Linked DNA regions of Homo sapiens: region 1 is linked to region 2. The links come from fine-mapping of genetic effects on plasma protein levels. Region 2 holds a variant in brackets. A gene starts in the other region. All regions are shown on their reverse strands.

What was found. A credible set is the group of variants that fine-mapping cannot tell apart. PIP is the chance, under the fine-mapping model, that this variant and not a neighbour inherited with it causes the effect. The UK Biobank Pharma Proteomics Project read protein levels with antibody pairs (Olink). The fine-mapping took linkage between variants from a reference panel, not from the people measured, so its PIPs are less certain.
Region 1: it holds the start of C6orf58, and the variant in region 2 is the best candidate, but not a certain one, in a credible set for the plasma level of the C6orf58 protein (UK Biobank, PIP 0.55).

The regions. Positions count from the first base shown.
Region 1 is chr6:127,574,150-127,579,533 of GRCh38, reverse strand. C6orf58 (chromosome 6 open reading frame 58) reads right to left here and starts at 2,360. Exons shown (of 6, transcript NM_001010905.3): 1 at 2,048-2,360; 2 at 762-848. The coding sequence starts at 2,348.
Region 2 is chr1:206,930,502-206,935,809 of GRCh38, reverse strand. PIGR (polymeric immunoglobulin receptor) reads left to right here. Exons shown (of 11, transcript NM_002644.4): 5 at 1-324; 6 at 1,064-1,390; 7 at 2,644-2,824; 8 at 3,233-3,354; 9 at 4,008-4,139; 10 at 4,255-4,313. Among named protein-coding and RNA genes, the nearest start is that of FCMR, 11 kb to the right of the region's middle. RefSeq lists enhancers at 4,779-5,308, 4,972-5,308. The variant G/A (reference allele first, on the strand shown) is at 3,514.

The sequences.
Region 1 (5,384 bases), not on the chromosome of region 2:
GCAGGCTAATCCTCCAAACTACTAAACCAATCTAAGAATAACAAACTCTGAATTCTAGATCTGTGGCCACTACTATTCGCGAGTCTTTTAAAAGAACTAGGGGTAGTAAGTGGAAAATGCTTAAGGATACATATGATGTGTGTTGCCCTGAAAAAGTGAAATTTAATGTGGTCGTGTTTCTAACTATTGAGAAATACCTCTAAGGATTTGTGGTATAAATTGTTTTCATTACTAAAGCATAAAATTAAATGAAAGAATTAGAAAATACCTTCTGGTTATTTTAGCATTAAGTATATGATTAAAGCCTGAGATTACTGATTGGTATAATGAATTGCAGTAGGTATTAATCTCTGGCATGTTTATGGGTTTCAATATTAACCACATCTGGTCTGAGCAAAATGAAAAAGCATCATTTGTCTTGATGTCTCACTTCTCATCGTTCCTTATTCTGGAGATTCTTTGTCATCAGTTGGACCTCCCACCTAACTACCAGAGCTGGCCCCTCAGAGGCCACTGCTTTTGCAGAACCTTGTTTTCGTCCTTCTGTGAAAAGCTGGATATGTCCTAAGGAATCATTATTGACATTGTGGCTCTTAAATCCCTTAAAGTGACCTAAAGGCCATAAGGTACACGGTGAAATAGATTCCTTTTTAAAATAGGAACAGGATTATTTTAGTTCTGTCTCTGTCCCTAAGATTTTAGGTTTGAATGCTTTCTTTCAGGAAAGGTTAATATCTATTTTGCCACTTAAACGAACATACCAGCCCACCAACTGTCCACAGAGATGCACATATGATCTCCAGATTCATAGCCACAGTTTGTCCTTCGGGTTGGATCAGCTAATCTGCCTGGAGGAGAGAGGATGCACAGTCGTATTTATTATACGCATTTTGAAACTGGCTGTAACTATTGCTTAACCACATAGATTTTGTTTGTAGATACAAAAGCATTTATTTCTGAATGATATGTGTTTGTATTCCCATCATTCTTTTTTTATCTTTTATTTTTTAGTTTCTAATTTCTTTCCTTTTCCTTAACAACACAGTTTTCTACTTTTGAGTTATAGGTCCTAAATATTATTTACTTTTGTAAGGATACTCTCTTCTATTTCCTCCTCTACCTTCTAATCGAAACTATGAAGCAATATGCATACAGATGAAAAGAGATGGTCGAGAGTCAAAACAAACCCCTGCTCTACCACTTACTAGCTTGACTTTATCTAAATAACCTCTAATGCCTTAGTTTTCTCATCTATGACATGGGGATAATAATATTAACTACATTATAAGGTTGTGATGTGAGGTGAGAAAAAGCACCAAAGGTGTTTCACCTGTAATATGCATTATGTAAATATTAGAAAATAATCATTGTTTTTCTTCCAAATGAAATTGCTCTTTTCTTAACCTCTCTCTCACACACAATAATTTCTTTATTGGCTGTGTCATCAGCAGGGAGTGGGCAACAGGCACCACTCTTTCTCATGAGCTTCTATCAACCAGAACAAAAGTATCTTTCAATTCATGTATATTTTATCCCAAAATGTAACTTCTGTCTATACACTGTAAGGTACCTTATTTCCAAGAGGAAGCAAACATTTTACAGAGAAAGATCTTCATGAACAATGTGATGCTTCTTTATAACCTCATATCATAATTAGAACTTCAAGAAATTCAAACTAATTGGACATCACTTTGTATATCCCCTTGACTGTTTTGTTCATCTCATTGCTTAGAAAGGAGTGTGGCACTTAGTAGAACTTCAACAAATATTTGTGAAATGCTCAATAGATGAGATGTGATGTCTTTTCACAGTTGATAACTATGTCTTATGCCTCATTGAAGCTTCTAATAATAACACACAACCCACAAAAGAAGGATTTGTGGATAAGGAGAAGGATAGGTAGAAAAACAATGATTATAAGGGAAAAGAGAACAAGATAAAGAATCAATTTTTAAAAACATAGTAGGGTATATACAGAGTCCAATTTCCCAAATACTTCATAGGTCTATCGGTAGATCATTACAATGAAAACAAGAGTCATTCTTACCTGTCCTATATTGCCAGCCATACTGCAGAGGCAACCCCCATAAAATATTCTGTTCATTATCTGGTGCAAATTTTGCAAAATACCTGGCTGTCTGATTCAATATGATTTTATACATCCCCATTCTCTCAAGGTATACCCAGGGATTAATAATGTACATGCTGTTCTCCACCCTGTAGTCACTGAGCTGACCAGGACTCTCCTTCCACAGAGGGGGCTCTGTCTCTGAGAGATTGGAAGTCCCTGCTAAGGAAGCAGAAAAGGAACCAACTAGTACACAAACCCAGGAAGGAAGAAAAGCCATTGTGCCAGAGCTGGGGATTGCGATCGTAGCAGGGCTTTTATTGGAGAATGGAAGAGGAAGTCATGATATTTGCTAACCTCACAGCATATCAACACTTTGCTTTTTTGTTTTCCTGGATAGGGTGAAAATGTAGAAGAAATTGATGTATTAGCTAACATTTAGGACAATTAAATTTCCCAGACTCTTCAGCGTCAGAATACTGTGTCAGAACCTAAATACAAGGTTAGGCTTGTTTATAATGTATTAGATAAAACTATTTATCAACAAAAACCTTCCAGAAGTTTCCCAGGCTGCATTGTGATTACAAAATACATCACAAATGGCTTTAGAATGCTTCCCTCTAATAAAAATACTTTAACATATTTCATGGAAAATATTAAATAGCTGGAGATGGAAATACTAGGATTTATAATAATCTTCAAATGTGTACTAAAAATATGTGTGATCCAGTTGTAATACAATGTTCTGCTTCAAGAAAGAAGCTTAAAGAATATCTAATTAGCTCAATTCAATAATGAAAGTCAGCCTGCTGGAACAAAACCTGCTAGTTAATTCTTAATATCTATTTTTCATTCTTTATTAGTAAAAGAATCGTAGAATTTTAGCTGGGAATATGGTCTCCCAGAATTAAGGCTAAATTTCCAATTTGCTTTACACAAGCAACCATGTGACTAAGTGTGGACCACAGAGACATAAATAGAAATAGTATCCACAATTTCTGGAACATGTCCTAAAATGAAGGGCACATGTCAATTCCTCTTCCCTTCCTCCATGTTGTGGCTTGGATTATTGATGTGATGATTGAAATTCAATTCTGACCCCTAAACGCAAGGCACTATCTTAGGGATGACAGAATGCAAAGCTGGAGGTGGCTTGAGTCCCAGAGGGCTGTGGAGCCATGAGATGTCCTTGAATTCCTATATCTGAGTTTTACCTGAGCAAGAAACACCCCACTCTCTTGTTTCAACCACTGTTATTGAAGTTTTATTCACACATAGTAAAAATTCTTGCCTTATTAATAGGTAATGCATCTGAAAATCTCAATTATTTACACAATTAGATGCATATGCTTCATAGTAGGTCACTGGTACTGCTTGTTCCTGGCATGGTCCACATTAAACATCCTACAGCATGATTCCACTCTTTTTTCCTGTCATATTATTTACCCAATAGCCATTTGATAATTAATAAATTTTCCAGATATATTAATATAAAAGGGAATGGTAGGAATTGCTACTATAGATCAAGAATGCAATCATTCTGGAAATTTTAAAAGTATATTAAATGTTTATAAGAATATATACGTGAATATGTACTGTAAGATGTGTTACTCTAAAACCAAATGCCAGATTGTTCTCAATGGAGAAATCTTAAGAGCACTCCTTTAAGGTCAGAAATAAAATAAAAATGACCACCAGCATTATAATCATTTAACTTTTCTTTGAGGATACCAAACAATAAAGTTAGTAAAGATAAATAAATTAGAGGTATAAAATTGAGAATGAAGATGTGCTAGTACTTTCCCTTATAGATGATATGACAGTGTTCAGAAAACATAAGAGAATAAACTAGAAGGGTAACTACAAAGAAAAAATTTACTAAAGTGGTTAAGAACTAAATTACTATATATAAATCAATAGCTTTTATATATAAAAGCAATTGGGAAATATAATAGGTGAAAATGGAAGAAAAGTCCTCATTTTATTGTCAACAAAAGGGCCAACATATAAATGTATAATTATGGTAGATCTGTTTGGAAAAATCTCTAAGACTACAAAAAAATTGAACAGTTTTAAAGTCATACAATGTTTCTCAATAGACTCAACATTATCAACATGTTAATTTATAAATTTGTACAATAAATGAGAAATATTAACAGGATTTTTAGATGTGCTTTCTGGAAAGATTTTTAGGACTGAGGCTAAAATTTGCCTAAAAAATAAATTATGAAGAAAATACAAAAACTCTAATAATAATGGATAATAATAGTGAAAGGAAACTTTCCATAACAGATATTAGAAGATTATTATAAGCCCTCAAAAATTAAAGTAACACACCACAGTCATTGATGTAATAGTGTGACCAGTTACAGGTTAAATAAAACAGAAATATTGAACTATATTAGAGAAAGATTTTAAATGAAGACCAAAATACAAATGAGAATTTAAAGAGGAGCTATACTGGAACTAGATCTAGACATTGCTTCTATGTCCACTAGTGGAGTAGTTATTGGAATCCCATATACAGTGGGAAAAAAGTAAGAGCACATCTTGATGGAAAGATATTTGTTAAGGATATAAAAGAAATAATGTCAATAGTAGAATCTGGATCTTCTCATGCAAAAATTATTAATAGAAGAGGAAATAAGTTAGACGCTTACAAATAAACCTCAAATGAACATCAAACATATCACGGCATGCACTGATAGTTACATAACGTGATATTCACTCTTCTCTTATTTCTTTGTAAGAACACCCTTAATCCTTAGCACAACAGAGTCTTCCTGGAATAGAGATTATATTATTTAGTCTCACTGCTAGATGTAGCTACTTGATAAAGCTGTGGCCAAATTGTTAAGTTGCAGCTTTCAAGGAATCTCCTTTATACCTTGTCCTTTATTCTTTGTTATTTCTTCCTCTGCTGGCTGGAATGTAAATGTAACTAGAGACTGATGCTGTCTTAGATTATGAAGGAGCAAGAAAAGGTAGGAGAACAATAAAATAGAAGACTTTTGGTTTCTAGTCTCTACAGCTCTAGATTGTCTACTTCTGATTGCTGTCTCTATGAAAGAAATAAAATTTTAACTTAAGGCAATTTTTTTTTATGGATTTGTACTGCTTGGAGAACCTAATCTGAACAGACATTCTAATTTTGTCTTTCAACATTTCTGTGCCCATTTTTTCTTAACTATAAAGTAGAAATAGTTTTACTGCTCCTAAATCCACTAATTATAACTTCTTTTCAAGGTAAGTTTGTGATATTTGAAAAGATAATTAGTATTAGATACTGGATAGACAATTATATGTTTGAGTCACA
Region 2 (5,308 bases):
TTCCCCGCAGCCCCACTGTGGTGAAGGGGGTGGCAGGAGGCTCTGTGGCCGTGCTCTGCCCCTACAACCGTAAGGAAAGCAAAAGCATCAAGTACTGGTGTCTCTGGGAAGGGGCCCAGAATGGCCGCTGCCCCCTGCTGGTGGACAGCGAGGGGTGGGTTAAGGCCCAGTACGAGGGCCGCCTCTCCCTGCTGGAGGAGCCAGGCAACGGCACCTTCACTGTCATCCTCAACCAGCTCACCAGCCGGGACGCCGGCTTCTACTGGTGTCTGACCAACGGCGATACTCTCTGGAGGACCACCGTGGAGATCAAGATTATCGAAGGTAGGAGTTGACAGGGAGGGAGAAAGCTCTAAAACCTCTCCAGCCAGCAGCAGCATCCCCAACCACTCTTCCTCCTTTTTCACCCGCCTCCACCCTGATGGGCCAGACCTCAGGAGGGAGCCCACCTATCCAGAGGTCACATTTTCATGCCTATAACACGCACCTTACACTCTGAATTACCATACATGGTACCTCCTACTACCAAGAACATGGGCTTCTTTCGCAGTGTGCAGGCATCAGCTGAAGTCAAGGATTGCAGATACCTCTTTGTATTGAGTCTAGAAGAGAAGGAAGAGTGAGGAAAGCAAACTGAAGTCCATGTGTGAAGATCTATGGTCTATGGTAGACTCTGGATTGATCATGGTGCTCATCAATAATAATTATTACCTAGGCACACAATTACATTTCTTCTGTAGTCAGAATAACATACTTATTTCTAATGCTATCCAAAGAGGATATGTAGACTGAACATGGTGGTGCATGCCTGTAATCTCAGCACCTTGGGAGGCCAAGACAGGAAGATTGCTTGAGCCCAGGAGATGGAGGCTGCAGTGAGCTATGATCGCACCACTACCCTCCAGCCTGGGTGACAGAGAGAGACCTTGTCTCAAAAACAAAAACAAAAATATATATATATATGTATATGACATGTGGACAAAGATTCCCACCAGAGTCACTTCCCTGCAGCATCTCCAAGTACCAACTTCTGTGTTTATTTCTACCTCCCTCCCTCCTCCAGGAGAACCAAACCTCAAGGTACCAGGGAATGTCACGGCTGTGCTGGGAGAGACTCTCAAGGTCCCCTGTCACTTTCCATGCAAATTCTCCTCGTACGAGAAATACTGGTGCAAGTGGAATAACACGGGCTGCCAGGCCCTGCCCAGCCAAGACGAAGGCCCCAGCAAGGCCTTCGTGAACTGTGACGAGAACAGCCGGCTTGTCTCCCTGACCCTGAACCTGGTGACCAGGGCTGATGAGGGCTGGTACTGGTGTGGAGTGAAGCAGGGCCACTTCTATGGAGAGACTGCAGCCGTCTATGTGGCAGTTGAAGAGAGGAAGGCAGCGGGTGAGTCTCCAAGGACAGGGCCTGCACCCCTCAGACCCAGAGGCAGGACTTCCTGAAGGCCCCTGCCTGAGAGCTTCTCAATCAGTGCTGGCCCCTATGTTTGGCTGTAAGAGGCTGAAAGTGGAGAGTGGGAAGGGAGGGGACATTTAGGTCCTATATAGCCTCGTTGAGCCCTTCAAAAGGGACATCTCAAATAAACATACCAACTAAGTAAAAATAGTGGGTTTGCTATTTAACCTCGGCATTAAGACAACTCCCAGCTGAATGTGGTGGCTCACACCTGTAATCCCAGCACTTTGGGAGGCCGAGGTAGGCAGATCACTTGAGGCCAGGAGTTCAACACCAGCCTGGCTGACATGGAGAAAACTCGTCTCTACTAAAAATACAAAAATTAGCTGGGCATGGTGGTGTAATCCCAGCTATTTGGGTGGCTGAGGCATGAGAATTGCTTGAACCCAAGAGGCAGGGGTTGCAGTGAACTGAGATCGTGCCACCACACTCTAGCCTAGGCAACAGAGCTAGATTCCATTTCAAAAAAAAAAAAAAGACAAGTCCCATAGTTGCCACTTCAACCCAGATTGAAGTCTCTTCTATATCTGGAAATATTCTTCTCTGTATAGAAGAATAATATGCATACATCACTGTCATATGCAATATGTTCATCCCCCTTCCCCCTGCCAAAGCTCGCCCTCGAAAGAGGGCCAGATACCTTCATTTACAAGGTCTGATCAGGAAAATTAGGAAACATCTAGTAAATTTGCATTTCAAGTCCCCTTTTAAAATTTCACATGAAATGTTTTAGCCCTAATAAGGGTATTTGTAGTCCCTCAAGAAATCCTATTGGGTCTGGACCCTGCGGATGGGACTCACTGAGGGGCCCATCGCCAGGCTACCTCCAGGGGGCAGCACTATCATACCCAGCTGGGCAGTCAGGAAGCCTGGGGCAGCGTCTCAGAGCCTTGAAAATCTCCCGGGCATAAGTGATGGGTCAGCCTTTATGCACAGCTGGTCTATGACACGAAGCCTTGAAGGTCCCCACTATACTTTTGGTAGTAATGGGGCAGAGATCATCTGTGACAGCTGAAGAAGGCCATCACAGCTGTTTCTAATGTCATCCTGGGTCCTACCCCAACAGCCTTGAGATCGAACCCTGACCCTGTGATTCCTCATGAAGTCTCCCCCAGACTCCTTCACCTCGAGGAGTAAGAGCATAGAGAAAAATCACAACCCAGGCCCACTCTTCCCTGCTGCAGGGTCCCGCGATGTCAGCCTAGCGAAGGCAGACGCTGCTCCTGATGAGAAGGTGCTAGACTCTGGTTTTCGGGAGATTGAGAACAAAGCCATTCAGGATCCCAGGCTTTTTGCAGAGGAAAAGGCGGTGGCAGATACAAGAGATCAAGCCGATGGGAGCAGAGCATCTGTGGATTCCGGCAGGTAAGGAAGGATTCAAGGCTCCCCACTCGGAGAACACCCCAGAGCCGAGCACCTGAGGCTGGGCCACCAGGTCCAAGGAGGAAAGCCCATCTGTCTCTTGAGCACTGGGGCAGCCCTTACTACCTCTGCTTATATGTGGGAGGGTCCTATGGTACCCTCTGCCCTTCTCCCATGGCTGGGGAGGTGTTTACAATTCAGTTCAATCTTCCAGGCCTAGGATGCAACAAGGCCCAGTGCGTGCCTTTGCCAGTCTGGGAAGGCTTCTTAGAAGAACAGAGCTAGGGAGCTGCATCAGCAGGGTGGGGTGGATAAACCTGGGAGGAAAAAGGACTAAGCCAACCTTGCCAGCACATCGTCGGGCCCCCAGATCTCCCTTCCAGGGATGAACTAACTTAAGCCTTCTTCCAGCTCTGAGGAACAAGGTGGAAGCTCCAGAGCGCTGGTCTCCACCCTGGTGCCCCTGGGCCTGGTGCTGGCAGTGGGAGCCGTGGCTGTGGGGGTGGCCAGAGCCCGGCACAGGAAGAACGTCGGTGAGTCCCTGGGATACTCCCTGCCTCCCACCTCCAACCCGAGCCCTCAGTCCTGAATCATCCACCCATAGAGGAAGCTGCTGTGTCTCTTCTTTTTCATGAGCTAAAACAAAGGATCCCGAGAAAGCAGGATGGGGAAAGATAAACCCACACATACTC[G/A]AAACTGAAATTCAGAGCTGCTGTCCAAATACTAACACTGGAAAATCATCTCCAATTACCCAGGATCTAGGTTCAGAGACAGGGCTGCCAGGAAGAGGAGATTGGGTTTCAGGAGACCCTGGGCTTGGACTAATTGGATAACTAATGAGCTGTGTGACATTGAGCCATCCTTATGCCATGCCTCAGTTTCCTCATGGCTCAAGTCAAGGATGATAATCAGGACCTCACGGGGCTGATGTGAGGACCAAAGGAGATGCTGTGCATTGAAAGGTCCCAGAGTGACAAAGATCAGGGATTACCAAGTCCTGATTACCCAGGAAAAGGGACTGGGGAGGAGACTCGGATCATTTCCATCCCCCTGGGTCATAGTCAGAGCTGCACCACCTCAGCTGTCCTGCAGGGCTACAGTGGATCCGCCCAGAGAGAAGCAGCCCAGCCTGGCCTTCTAGGTCCCAGCCCCTGTCCTTACACCAACTCCTCTTCCTCCCGGACAGACCGAGTTTCAATCAGAAGCTACAGGACAGACATTAGCATGTCAGACTTCGAGAACTCCAGGGAATTTGGAGCCAATGACAACATGGGAGCCTCTTCGATCACTCAGGAGACATCCCTCGGAGGAAAAGAAGGTATGACCCTCACTCAAGGGAATGCTCAGCCCCTGGGGAGAGTAAGAATTGGTCTCACATCTGGGTTGGGAAAAGGAGGCTAGTAAGGGCTAACCTACCCTCTTTCTTCACACAGAGTTTGTTGCCACCACTGAGAGCACCACAGAGACCAAAGAACCCAAGAAGGCAAAAAGGGTGAGGAGGAAGAAGGAAGCCCCACTACATGACAAAGAAATGCAGCATGAGGGGATGCAGTTAGACTTCAGAAAGAACTACCTCAACATGGGGGCCGATCCCAGAATAGGGAGGATGATATAAATAGTCCTCAGGAGTCCTCAGGACTTTTTGAGGAAGAACTATATCTTACTGGTTGTGGGATGCTGATGTGGATAAGGCCCAGGAAGGAGGTGAGCTATATGATTAGGCTGTAAAACTGCAGGAGAGAGGCAGGCCAGGAGATGAGGAAAGCAGGTGCATAAAAGATGGGAAGCTACAATGCCAAATGCTGGTGATTAAATGGATGCTCTTCCTGGGTTGGGGGACCCAAGGACCTCAGGCCACACATCCTCCCTTGAGGGTTTGCTCAGGACCAGCTTTTTGCCTGGGCCTAGGAGACATTTGCTTGCGGTGGGCAGTTTGAGGCTAGAAGCCCCTGCTCACTTCTCTTGAAGCCCCACCAGAGGCAACTCCTGCCTTGGGTGCCATATACCATCCCCTCAATCTGCCCTAGGACTCAGGGGACCAAGAAAAATAACATCTCATGCCTTTAATCCCGAGGTGAGAGTTTTTGTTGTTGTTGTTGTTGTTTTTATCATATCTACTTTTTCTTGAAACATCTCTGGCATTTAGCAAAGTTAGAACGAGTTATTCCTGGGACAGCCTTCCCCTTTAACTTTGTGGTGCCAAAAAGCTACCTGTCTGGGCTGGTGGAGAAAGAAAAACATACACCACCGTGGTTGACCCCAGCCTAGGCCACCTTGCCCGTGGACTGTGTGGGCAGCTTCCGGGGACAGGCCCGGGCAACAGAGGCGGTTCCACTCCGTGTGTCAGAAGGAGGTAGTGAGACAGAAGAAGATATTTTTAGAGGCTGCAACTTTCCATTTCTCAAAATGCGTCCTTCTTGGTGAGCATGGGGGCTGGGATGAGAACAGTGGGCCCCAAAGGCTTGTGTTGCTTGGACCAAGATCACG